Regions from separate parts of the Homo sapiens genome. Here region 2 is linked to region 1. Evidence: fine-mapped expression QTL. Tissue or cell type: whole blood. Region 1 holds a variant in brackets; the other region holds the start of a gene. All regions are shown on one strand. Distances are from middle to middle. Region 1 overlaps LOC102724495 (a long non-coding RNA gene). Region 2 holds the start of LSM8 (LSM8 homolog, U6 small nuclear RNA associated).

What was found. PIP is the estimated chance that this variant, and not a neighbour inherited with it, causes the effect.
Region 2: LSM8 starts here. The variant in region 1 is fine-mapped to the expression of LSM8 in whole blood (TOPMed, PIP 0.99).

Annotation. Positions count from the first base shown.
Region 1 is chr7:118,266,293-118,271,689 of GRCh38, forward strand. All of the region lies in intron 1 of LOC102724495 (a long non-coding RNA gene), which reads left to right. Among named protein-coding and RNA genes, the nearest start is that of ANKRD7, 44 kb to the left of the region's middle. The variant C/T (reference allele first, on the strand shown) is at 3,321.
Region 2 is chr7:118,181,600-118,186,996 of GRCh38, forward strand. It overlaps LSM8 (LSM8 homolog, U6 small nuclear RNA associated), which reads left to right and starts at 2,565. Exons shown (of 4, transcript NM_016200.5): 1 at 2,565-2,655; 2 at 4,055-4,095. The coding sequence starts at 2,625. It overlaps LOC105375470 (a long non-coding RNA gene), which reads right to left and starts at 2,369. Exons shown (of 4, transcript XR_927904.3): 1 at 2,316-2,369.

The DNA of each region.
Region 1 (5,397 bases):
CATTGGTGTTCCAAGCCAGGCTCTTTCTCTTTAGAGTCAGTGTAATGAGCTATAATTGATGGTAGCCATGATGATGGTGAAGCCTGAAGTGAGTATTTCTCATGTAAGCTCATTCAAAGGAGTTTTGAGCAATCATTTCTGTGTCAGAGTCAAGTTTTTGTGGTGAATGAAAAAAACTATACATACATATATATGTATGTATATATACACATACATATATACATACATATACATATGTATATATATACATACATATACATATGTATATATATACATACATATACACATATATATACATACATATACATATGTATATATATACATACATATATACATATATACAGATATGGTATATGTATGGTATATGTATGTATGGTATATACATATATACACATATATACATATGTATGTATATACATACATATACATATGTATATATATACATACATATACATATGTATATATATACATACATATATATGTATATATATACACACACACACACACACATATATATATATATGTAAACATTCATTTTGGACCTGATAACATTTTTTTTTTCCTTTTACCAGCCAATAAATCTTAGAGTTTTTTTCTTGTTGTGGAGATTTATAGGTGGATTCATTTTCCAGAGCTTAAGCTTCCTCCATTCTATCAATGATATTTTCCTCAAAGTGCCTTTGATAGCTTAAATAGCCTTGAGAAGAAAGTTTATAAATTAAGTATAAGATTAATAAGTATATTTACTTCGTTCTTTTGGGGCTGATGCAATTTCACTGCAGATTTTTAAAGCAGTGTGCAGCATTTCATATCATTAGGAAGTGGAATGGGTATATAACATTAAATTCAATAATGTCCTGGTAAGTAGTGCTTATATTCGAATACTTAAAGCATGCATATTGTTAACTAGAGTTTCATATTTATTTTAAGGTAATATTTGTATACAATGAAATGCCCATATCTTAAGAAAAATAAATGTAGAGACCCTATATAAAAATGTAAGAAATTCACTTAGGACTCACTGACATGTCCAAACATGAAATCCTAGAGTTGAAAGAGATTATTAGAAGTCCACAAGGTCAAATATTGTAACTCACAACAAAAATCTTTCCCATGGGCATGGTGTTCCCTGGAATGGCATTTTATAAGAAACACTGAGGAATGATGAGGAATCTGTAGTTATCAAAGGGCTAGTATTCTCTCCTAGGTAAATATCTTTACAACTCTGTTGCTCAAGTGTTAGTATCTTCATTTTATAGAATAGAAAACCACAGCTGAGGAAGGCAAAGTAACTTGCATATAAAATTACAGATGGAAGGTAGTTGAGTTGGCACTGAAACCTAAGTTCTTCTAAATTTATGACCAAATCCCCATCACCTTTAAAATGTCATACTGAAACATTTTAAAATCACGTAAAAATCACATTTTCTGTAAGTGCCTTTTTTATCTCATTATTTTTGAAAAAAATTTTCAAACATTAAGAAAATTTGAATGAATTTATATTTACCCTCTACCTAGGCTTTTCTATTCTATATATTGCATTATCACATACTTACCCATCTATACAGCCCTATATCCACCCATCAGTCCTTTCTATTAATGCATTTCAAAGTAAGTTACAAACATCAGTATTTCCTCTCAACTAATTTCTCTCAAATATTTAAGAGCACATATTAACTAGACTTTTATATTTACGTTTATATATTTTAAGGTGAGATTTATATAAAACGAAATGTCCAAATCTTAAGTATACTATGAGATGAGTACGCACAAATACATGTAACTGTGTAACTCAAAACCCTATCAAGATACAGAACTTTGCTCAGAAGGATTCCTTCATTTGCTTTCCCATTCAATCCCCCTTCTCCACCAATTTTTTTTTTTTTTTTCTGGCTGGAGTAGTTTTGCCTTTTCTAGGATTTTACATAAATTGAATTGTGGTATTTACTGTTTTGGGTAAAGCTACTTTCACTCCACATACTGCTTTGAGATTCATCAATGTTGTATGTGTTAATACTTATTTTCTTTGTCTTGTTGAATAGTATTGCACTATAGAATTTACCACATTTTATCTGTTCTCCGATTAAGATCTGAGAAGTTTCTAGTTTTCAGGTATAATGAATAAACTGCTATGATCGTATCTGTTCAAGGCTGTTTTGATTTTTAAATAAGAAACTGTGTGTTTTTACCTTTTTATATTCCTACCAACCATGTATGAAAATTTCAGTTGCTCCACATCCTCACCATCAGTTAGTATTGTCTATATTTTTAATTTTAGCCGTTCTTGTGTTTTTTTTCGTGTAGAGGTTTGTTCTTGTAGAGGCTTCCAATAGTGGTTCTACTTGTATTTCCCTGATGACTAATGGTAGTGATCACTTTTTCATCCACTCATTGGCCATTTATATGTTTTCTTTTGTGAGCTATTTATATATTTTATGTTTTTATGTATTTACTTTCATTATTGTGCTATGAGAATTCTTTATATATCCTATATATTAGCCCTTTGTCATATTTTCATTTTGCAAATAAATTCTTCTAATCTGGAGTTTAACTATGTATTTATTTATTTACTTTGCTTCAACTTTTATTTTAATTTCCAGGGTACAGGCGCAGGATATGCAGGTTTGTTACCTAGGTAAACGTGTGCCATGGTGGTTTGCTGCACAGATCAACCCATCACCTAGATATTAAGCCCAGCCTCCATTAGATATTCTTCCTGATGTTCTCCCTTTCCCTGCAGCCCCCAACAGGCCCCAGTGTGTGTTGTTTCCTACCATGTGTCCATGTATTCTCATTGTTCAGCTCCCACTTATAAGTGAGAACATTTAGTGTTTGGTTTTCCATTCCTGTGCTAGTTTGCTGAGGATAATGGCCTCCGGCTCCACCCATGTCCCTGCAAAGGACATGATCTCATTCCTTTTTATGAATGCATAATATTGATGGTGTATACTTACCACATTTTCTTTATCTGGTCTGTCACTGATGGACATTTGGGTTGATTTCATGTCTTTGCTATTGTGAAGAGTGCTGCAATGAACATACATATACATGTATCTTTATAATAGAATGATTTATGTTCCTTTGGGTATATACCCAGTAATGGGATTGCTGGGTCAAATATATTTCTGCTTCTAGATCTTTGATGAATCGCCACTCCATCTTCCACGATGGTTGAACTAATTTATATTCCCACCAACAGTGCAAAAGTGTACCTTTTTCTATACATCCTTGCCAGCATTTGTTGTTTCTTGATTTTTTACTAATCACCATTCTGACTGGTATGAGATGGTATCTCATTGTGGTTTTGATTTACATTTCTC[C/T]GATGATCAGTGATGTTGAGCTGTTTTCCATATGATTATTGGCCGTGTGAATGTCTTCTCTTGAGAAGTGTCTGTTCATGTCCTTTGCCCACTTTTTAATGATTTTTTTTTCTTGTAAATTTATTTAAGTTCCTTGTAGACTCTGGATATTAGACCTTTTTTAGATGGATAGGTTGCAAAAGTTTTCTTCCATTTTGTAAATTGTCTGTTCACTTTGATGATAACTTCTTTTGAGATGCAGAAACTCTTTAGTTTAATTAGATTCCATTTGTCAATTTTAGCTTTTGTTGCCATTGCTTTTGGCGTTTTCGTTGTGAAGTCTTTGTCCATGCCTACGTCCTGAATGGTATTGCCTAGGTTTTCTTCTAGGGTTTTTATAATTTTGGGTTTTACATATAAGTCTTTAATCAATCTTGAGTTAATTTTTGTATCAGGTGTAAGGAAGGGGTCCAGTTTCAACTTTTTGCATATGGCTAGCCAGTTTTCCCAACACCATTTATTAAATAGGAAATCCTTTTCCCATTGCTTGTTTTTGTCAGGTTTGTCAAAGATCAGATGGTTGCAGCTGTGTGCTCTTATTTTTGGGTTCTCTATTCTGTTCCATTGGTCAATGTGTTTTTGTACTGATACCATGCTGCTTTGGTTACTGTAGCCTTGTAGTATAATGTGAAGTCAGGTAGTGTGATGCCTGCAGCTTTGTTCTTTTTGCTTTGGATTCTCTTGGCTATATGAGCTCTTTTTTGGTTCTATATGAATTTTAAAATACTTTTTTTCCAGTTCAGAAGAATGTCAATAGTAGTTTAATGGTAATAGCATTGAATCTATAAATTACTTTGGGCAGTATGGCCATTTTCACGATATTGATTCTTCCTATCCATGAGCATGGAATGCTTTTCCATTTGATTGTGTCTGTCTTCTTTGAATTTTTTCAGCAGTGGTTTCTAGTTCTTCTTGAAGAGGTCTTTCACTTTTTTGTTAGCTCTATTACTAGGTATTTTATTCTCTTTGTAGCAGTTGTGAATGGGAGTTTGTTCATGATTTGCCTCTCTGCTTATCTGTTGCTGGTGTATAGGAATACTAACAAATTTTGCACATTGATCTTGTATCCTAAAACTTTGCTGAAGTTGCTTATCAGCTTAAGTAGCTTTTGGGTGGAGGCATAGTAGCCTTGAATAATCTTTTACATTTCTGTGGTGTCAGTTGTAATATCTCCCGTTTCATTTGTAATTGAGCTTATTTGGATTTTCTCTTCTTTTCTTGGTTAATCTTGCTATTGGTCCATCAATTTTATTTATCTTTTCAAAGAACAAAAAGCTTTTTGTTTCATTTATCTTTTGTATTTTCTTTTTGGTTTCAATTTTATTTAGTTCTGCTCCAATCTTGGTTAGTTCCTTTCTTCTGCTAGGTTTGGGTTTGGTTTGTTCTTGTTTCTCTCGTTCCTTGAGTTATGACGTTAGATTGTCTATATGTGCTTCCTCAGACTTTTTGGTGTAGGTATTTACCGCTATGAACTTTCCTCTTAGCATCGCCTTTGCTGTATTCCAGAGGTTTAGATAGGTTGTTCACTATAGTCGTTCAGTTCAAAGAATTTTTCAATTTCCATCTTGATTTCATTGTTGACCAAATGGTCATTCAGGAGCAGGTTATTTAATTTCCATATATTTGCATGGTTTTGAAGATTCCTTTTGGAATTGATTTCCAGTTTTATTTCAATGTGGTCTGAGAGAGTACTTGATATAATTTCAATTTTCTTAAATTTATTGAGACTTGTCTTGTGGCCTATCATTGGTCTATCTTTGAGAACATTCCATGTGCTAATGAATACAATGTATATCCTGCAGTTGTTGGGTAGAATGTTTTGTAAACATCTGTTAAGTTCATTTGTTCTGGGATGTAGTTTATACCCATTGTTTCTTTGTTGAATTTCTGTCTTGATGATCTGCCTAGTGCTATCAGTGGAGTATTGAAGTTCCCCACTATTACTCTGTTGCTATCTCATTAGGTTTGAGTAATTGTTTTATAAATTGGGGAGCTCCAGTGTTAGGCGCATATATACTAAAAATTGGAATATTTTCCT
Region 2 (5,397 bases), 85 kb before region 1:
TATTTTAAAAAACTGCTATTGTGATAGTTTTCCATAAACTATTCAGAGAAGCGCAAATTCAGTTTCCTAGGATTCTACTAGAAGTCTGATCCTTTAGGTTAAGGTTTTCTGCTCAAGATTTAGATTCAGAAGTAATGGAATAAAATTATCTATTACAAGCATACTTTGGTTGATACTTTATCAGTGATATAATGTCATTTAAATGAGCATTACTTTGAGAGGTTTCGACTTAAGGGGCAAGTTTCACTGTTAACTCTTAATTTTTTAGTAGTCAGATGTTTATGTGTATCAGTTTTCCCTTATTGGAGCTTTAATGTAATTCTTCTTTATGAGATGCTAAGGTTTCTACATTCATGTACTCCCAAGGGTACATGGCTAATATAGATAAATCACATATGTAATGTTTGCATCCAGATGTAATTCATTTTGTCTTAGTAAACCGACTTTTATTTATCCATAGGTTTTCTCGCTACATCTGTGATCCTTACAGACTACAGAAAATATAGCGATTTTAAGACACATGTAAAAAAGTTTCCAGCCAAAGAGATTTTGTGATGCTCCATAAACACTGTTCATCTGTTATTTATCTGGCATATTAATTTAATGACAACTACACAGGGCAATAGACTTACAAAAGCACACTCTAAGGGATGAAAAGCCATAGGGAGTATTCATTTTTTTTTTTTTTTTTTGAGATGGAGTATCGCTCTGTCGCCCAGGCTGGAATGCAGTGGCACAATCTTCGCTCACCGCAAACTTCACCTCCCAGGTTCTAGTGGTTCTCCTGCCTCTGCCTCCCTGGTATATGGGACTACAGGTGCCCGCCACCATGCTGGCTAATCTTTGTATTTTAGTAGAGAGGGGGTTTCACCACGTTGGCCAGGATGGTGTTGATCTCTTGACCTTGTGATCCACCCGCTTTGGCCTCCCAAAGTGCTGGGATTACAGATGTTAGCAACTGCACCCGGCCTCATTTTTATAAGATCACACAGAGGTTTTTTTGTTTGTTTGTTTTTGAAATGGAGTTTCGCTTTTGTCGCCCAGGCTGGAGTGGAATGGCGTGATCTCAGCTCACTGTAACCTCCGCCTCCCGGGTTGAAGCAATTCTCCTGCCTCACCCTCCAGAGTAGCTGGGGTTACAGGAACCCACCAACATGCCCAGCAATTTCTTTTTTTAACAAAACTCCTAACACCTCGTTAATCATTAATTAGTCTTTGGGTTTTGGTTCAACACCTAACATTTGCAAATCACACAATTATCTTTGTTCTTTCATTAGCGGAAGACACTTTCATTTGTTACCCTGAGAATATGAGACATTCACAATCTAATTCCTGACTACATTTGATTTCAAACAGATAGGAATAAGTTCCAGAATATAAAATATTAACTATTTGGGAGTATCTTGTGGGTATGCTCTAATTAAGAAATGCTTCCTTTTCCGAGGAAAACTGCTGACATTGCAAGAGTTATTACAAAGCCACAAATCTTAAGAAAATACATGTTTAACTGAAATTATAAAGATATTTTGCAAAAAAGGGAAATCGCTCCTGCTGGTGTTTTGTGTATAAATCTCTTTCTAACTTCAAGCTCTCTCAAGTTAGGGCAACAGTAAATGAAGTGGGAACAGTATCGCATTGGGAAATATCTGAAATGATACCTATGGGACTATCTAACGAAACTGAGGCCCAGAAGAATTGAAGTGACCTGTGCAATGACACCAATTTGTTAGCAGAGCCAAGATTAGAACCAAGTTTGGTGCCTTCCTGCATCCTTCCTGCATCGGTCCTTTCTCGGTGCTGCAGCAGCCTTTTACTTACTAATTTCACCCTGAAGAAAGGTAGACCATCCTGGCGTGGCAGAAGCGTGGACATTCGTTTTCTAAGGGATGGTCACACACCTTTGCCTATTTGCATTTAGTTTCTTTAAAAAGTAAAAACACCTCCATTTTGGAACACTTTTAGAGACAAAAGCAGAACATACGAAAGTGTATTTCACTGCTGAGTTCTTAAGAGGCGTACACCGTGTGGTTATAACGTGCGCAACTCTGTCCCGGGCAACTGAACTTATTTTTAGCGTTATTTTCGGCTTCTGCTGCAGAAAACTAGGGATTCAACTACCCGCACCTACGTTTCACACAACAGCACTCGTCTCTCTCCTTCACTCCTAATAAAAACACCTTACTTCGTTTATTCCTGCCTGCTCTACCTCGTCTCAACATTTTCTCTTGTTAACTTCCACCACACTGCCTTTTACTCGGATTGGAAACCCACTCTCCCCCAACTTCTGTCTCATACCCCCAACTTCTGTCTCATACCCCCAACTTCAGGAAGCGTCTTCCTTTTTTCCGCCTCTCGTTCGCTTTTGTCTTACGAGGCTTCCGGAACACGGCCCAGAATTACAGAGAAAACACACTGCGCACGCGCACTCTCTCGTCACCGCTGTGCGGCTTCTGTTTGGTTGGCCAGTTCGTCCCAATTTCCGACTCACAGGGCTGCGGAGCAGCAACTCTCACGATATTTGCTGCGACCCGCAGGCGCTATCCGCTGCCGGGTTCTGGCGCGCCCTTTCAGTTCTGCTTGCTGTCGGCACCGCTGCGTTACCCGGAACCGCCGGGCCGAACAGCATGACGTCCGCTTTGGAGAACTACATCAACCGTATCCTCAAGCTGGCCGCCGCGGGCGTGAGCCGGGGTCGCGGAGAGGCCGCGGTCGGGGATCGGTGGGAGGTTGGGAGGCCTGGCCTCGGCGGGATCCTGGGGGCGGGCGAGGAGATGAGGGCCCCGGAACGACCCAGAGTTCGCCGGCGGCGCCTCGAGCCTTCCCGCTGCTGCGGGCCCAGGGGTCCTTTCCATTTTGCCTGCAAAACCCAAATAAAAACCCAGTGTGATTATTCCGAACTTTTCTGTCTTAAAAAAAATGTACGCTCTTGATTCTTACTTACTATTTCCCTATGGCATAAGTGTTAAAGTTTGTGAATAAGATGAACAGTCGTCCTGGCGGCGACAACAGTTTTGCAAATCTTTGTACTTGTTTTATTCACATAATTTGCTCGTTCGAGGATAGCAAAAAGTTTAACGATGGTTCACAGACTGTTTCTGTCCCTTTACCACTTGAAGTCCCAACTTGTTGGTAGAATGAAAAAAAATGGTTGCTGTTGTAATGGATTATAGTGAGGAGCAAGTAACAACCCCATGGGAAGTCTTAAAATAGACTTTACAAGTGTTACCGTTTTAAAGTCTTAGGACAAAAACACTACGTTAAGCTCAGGTACAAACTGGGTGACAAAAATTAAATACCGAATGCTTTTAATGATGCGTTATTGGTACCCTGTGACACTGCTTATATAGTTTCTTTACTTTTGAATTACAGAAGCCTGTCCTGGAAGACAGTTTTTTAACATGCTGGAAAATCGTCCAACATCGATTAATTTAGTACTCATCCACTTTTCATTTTAGAAATAAACAGGCCTAAGAAACGAAATATCCTGCCTGAAATAATAGATTGGTAACCTTCCTAGTAGAAAAGTGTCAAAAATCCAGGATATTTTGAGATAAGATACACCGATCACATACAGAAAGAGGTTTTCTTTTTCTATTTTTTCCCTTTTTTAATCATGTAATTATCACAAAGACAAAAACAGAAGCTTTTTTTAAGTTTTTTTTTTTTTTTCTTTTTTTGAGTCGAGGGTCTCACTCTGTTGCCCAGGCTGGAGTGCAGTGGCTTGATCATGGCTCAATGCAACCTTGAACTCCTGAGCCCAAGCAATCCTCCTGCCTCTGCCTCTGCCTCCTGAGTAGCTGGGACTATAGGTCACCAGGCCAGGGTAATAGAGATGGGGGTATCGCTGTGTTGCCCAAGCTGGTCTCACCTCAAGTGATCCTCCTGCCTTGGCGTCTAAGAAACTTTTAACGTTTTTATGTAGTGAACTTAGTGGCTGTGTTGAATACTTATACCTAGTTGTCATATTTATTCTAAAAATTCAAATCATTCCCTTGCCAGAGTCTGTTTTCAATTTGCATTCCCTAAGAAACACTTTCTTTGATTCAGTTATCAGGAACTGTTGCCGTTATTACATCAGATGGGAGAATGATTGTGGTAAGTCTTTGGAATTTTCATTCTCTGCTTTCCTGTAGGTTTATTGGTTGCAAGTTTTATGTGAAACCTCTAATCTCTAATGCCTAGACAGCACATTACACCCGTAGTGCAATTTTATTATAATTCAGCTCTTTATCACTTTGCTGTCAATCCATGTTTTCCTCACTAATAAACATTGTGTGTTACCTACAAGGTTTCTCGGAGCTAGAATAATAGATTCTGCCCTCAGAGAGCTCCTAGTCTGTAGACCTTTATTAAACTTACTTTTCTTCTTCCATTTTTATTTCCTTCCCCATTCAGCACCACATGAATCAGAATTTTTTTGAAATTTTGCATATGCTTAGTAACTTTTTAATGATTTAGATACTATTAATATCTAGATAACATTTAAGGCTTGTATACAATCTTAATATTCTTTGTTTTTAGGTTGTGTGACATGTCTTCTGTAGGACACATTATGATGATTGACTCTCTATATATACACATATATATGTAAAATTGGCTTGTTCCTTGAAGTTGTTTCTCCCTTGCTAATTTATGTCATATAACTAAGATAAAACGTTCCTATAGTGATACTTGTATTTGGAATTTGATCTGAGGAATTCATCTCAAGATTTTTGGGTACTTGGTTATTTCTTCACTTACAATTCATACTTTGAATGCTTTCAAAAGAATTTTAAGGCTACTGAACTTTCTCTATTTTCTAACCTTACCTAGTTTCTTTAAATAATTTGATCCCTTATTTTTCCATTCTTCAGTTTTGCTTTTGTTCATTTTCTTTTTAAGCCTTGTGATTTTTTTTCACTGGGTCCTTAGTGACTATTATTAGTCAAAGTTCTAGCTTTGTCCTTTACTAAATTTATATCATGTGCCAGGTGCATATATGTTACATTATTTAATGTACAGTAAAAACTTATGAAGAATAAGTACCCCTGTATTCTAGATTAGGAAACAAGTTCAGAGAAGGTGACTCACTTTCTCAGAGTCACAAGGGTAGCAAGTGACAGAACCAAACTGGGATTTAAATTTGGTTTGACATCAAAGCCAAGGCCAGTTGCCTGGCTTCTTTCTTAAGGAAGCAATGATGTTTGCTTAGGCACCTCACATTGTATTTTTTCAAATATGGACAGTTTGACATATTTTAATTTCAACACTTCAGGAAGCCTATTGCTGTTAATAGATATTTGCATTTTTTTTTAATTTGGTGAAAACCTTAAGTTTAAATTTTCTTATTTTTGTTGACAGGGTAGATAATAAACTGAGAAATTATTTTTAATTTTAAAGAAGAATGAAAGTGATATA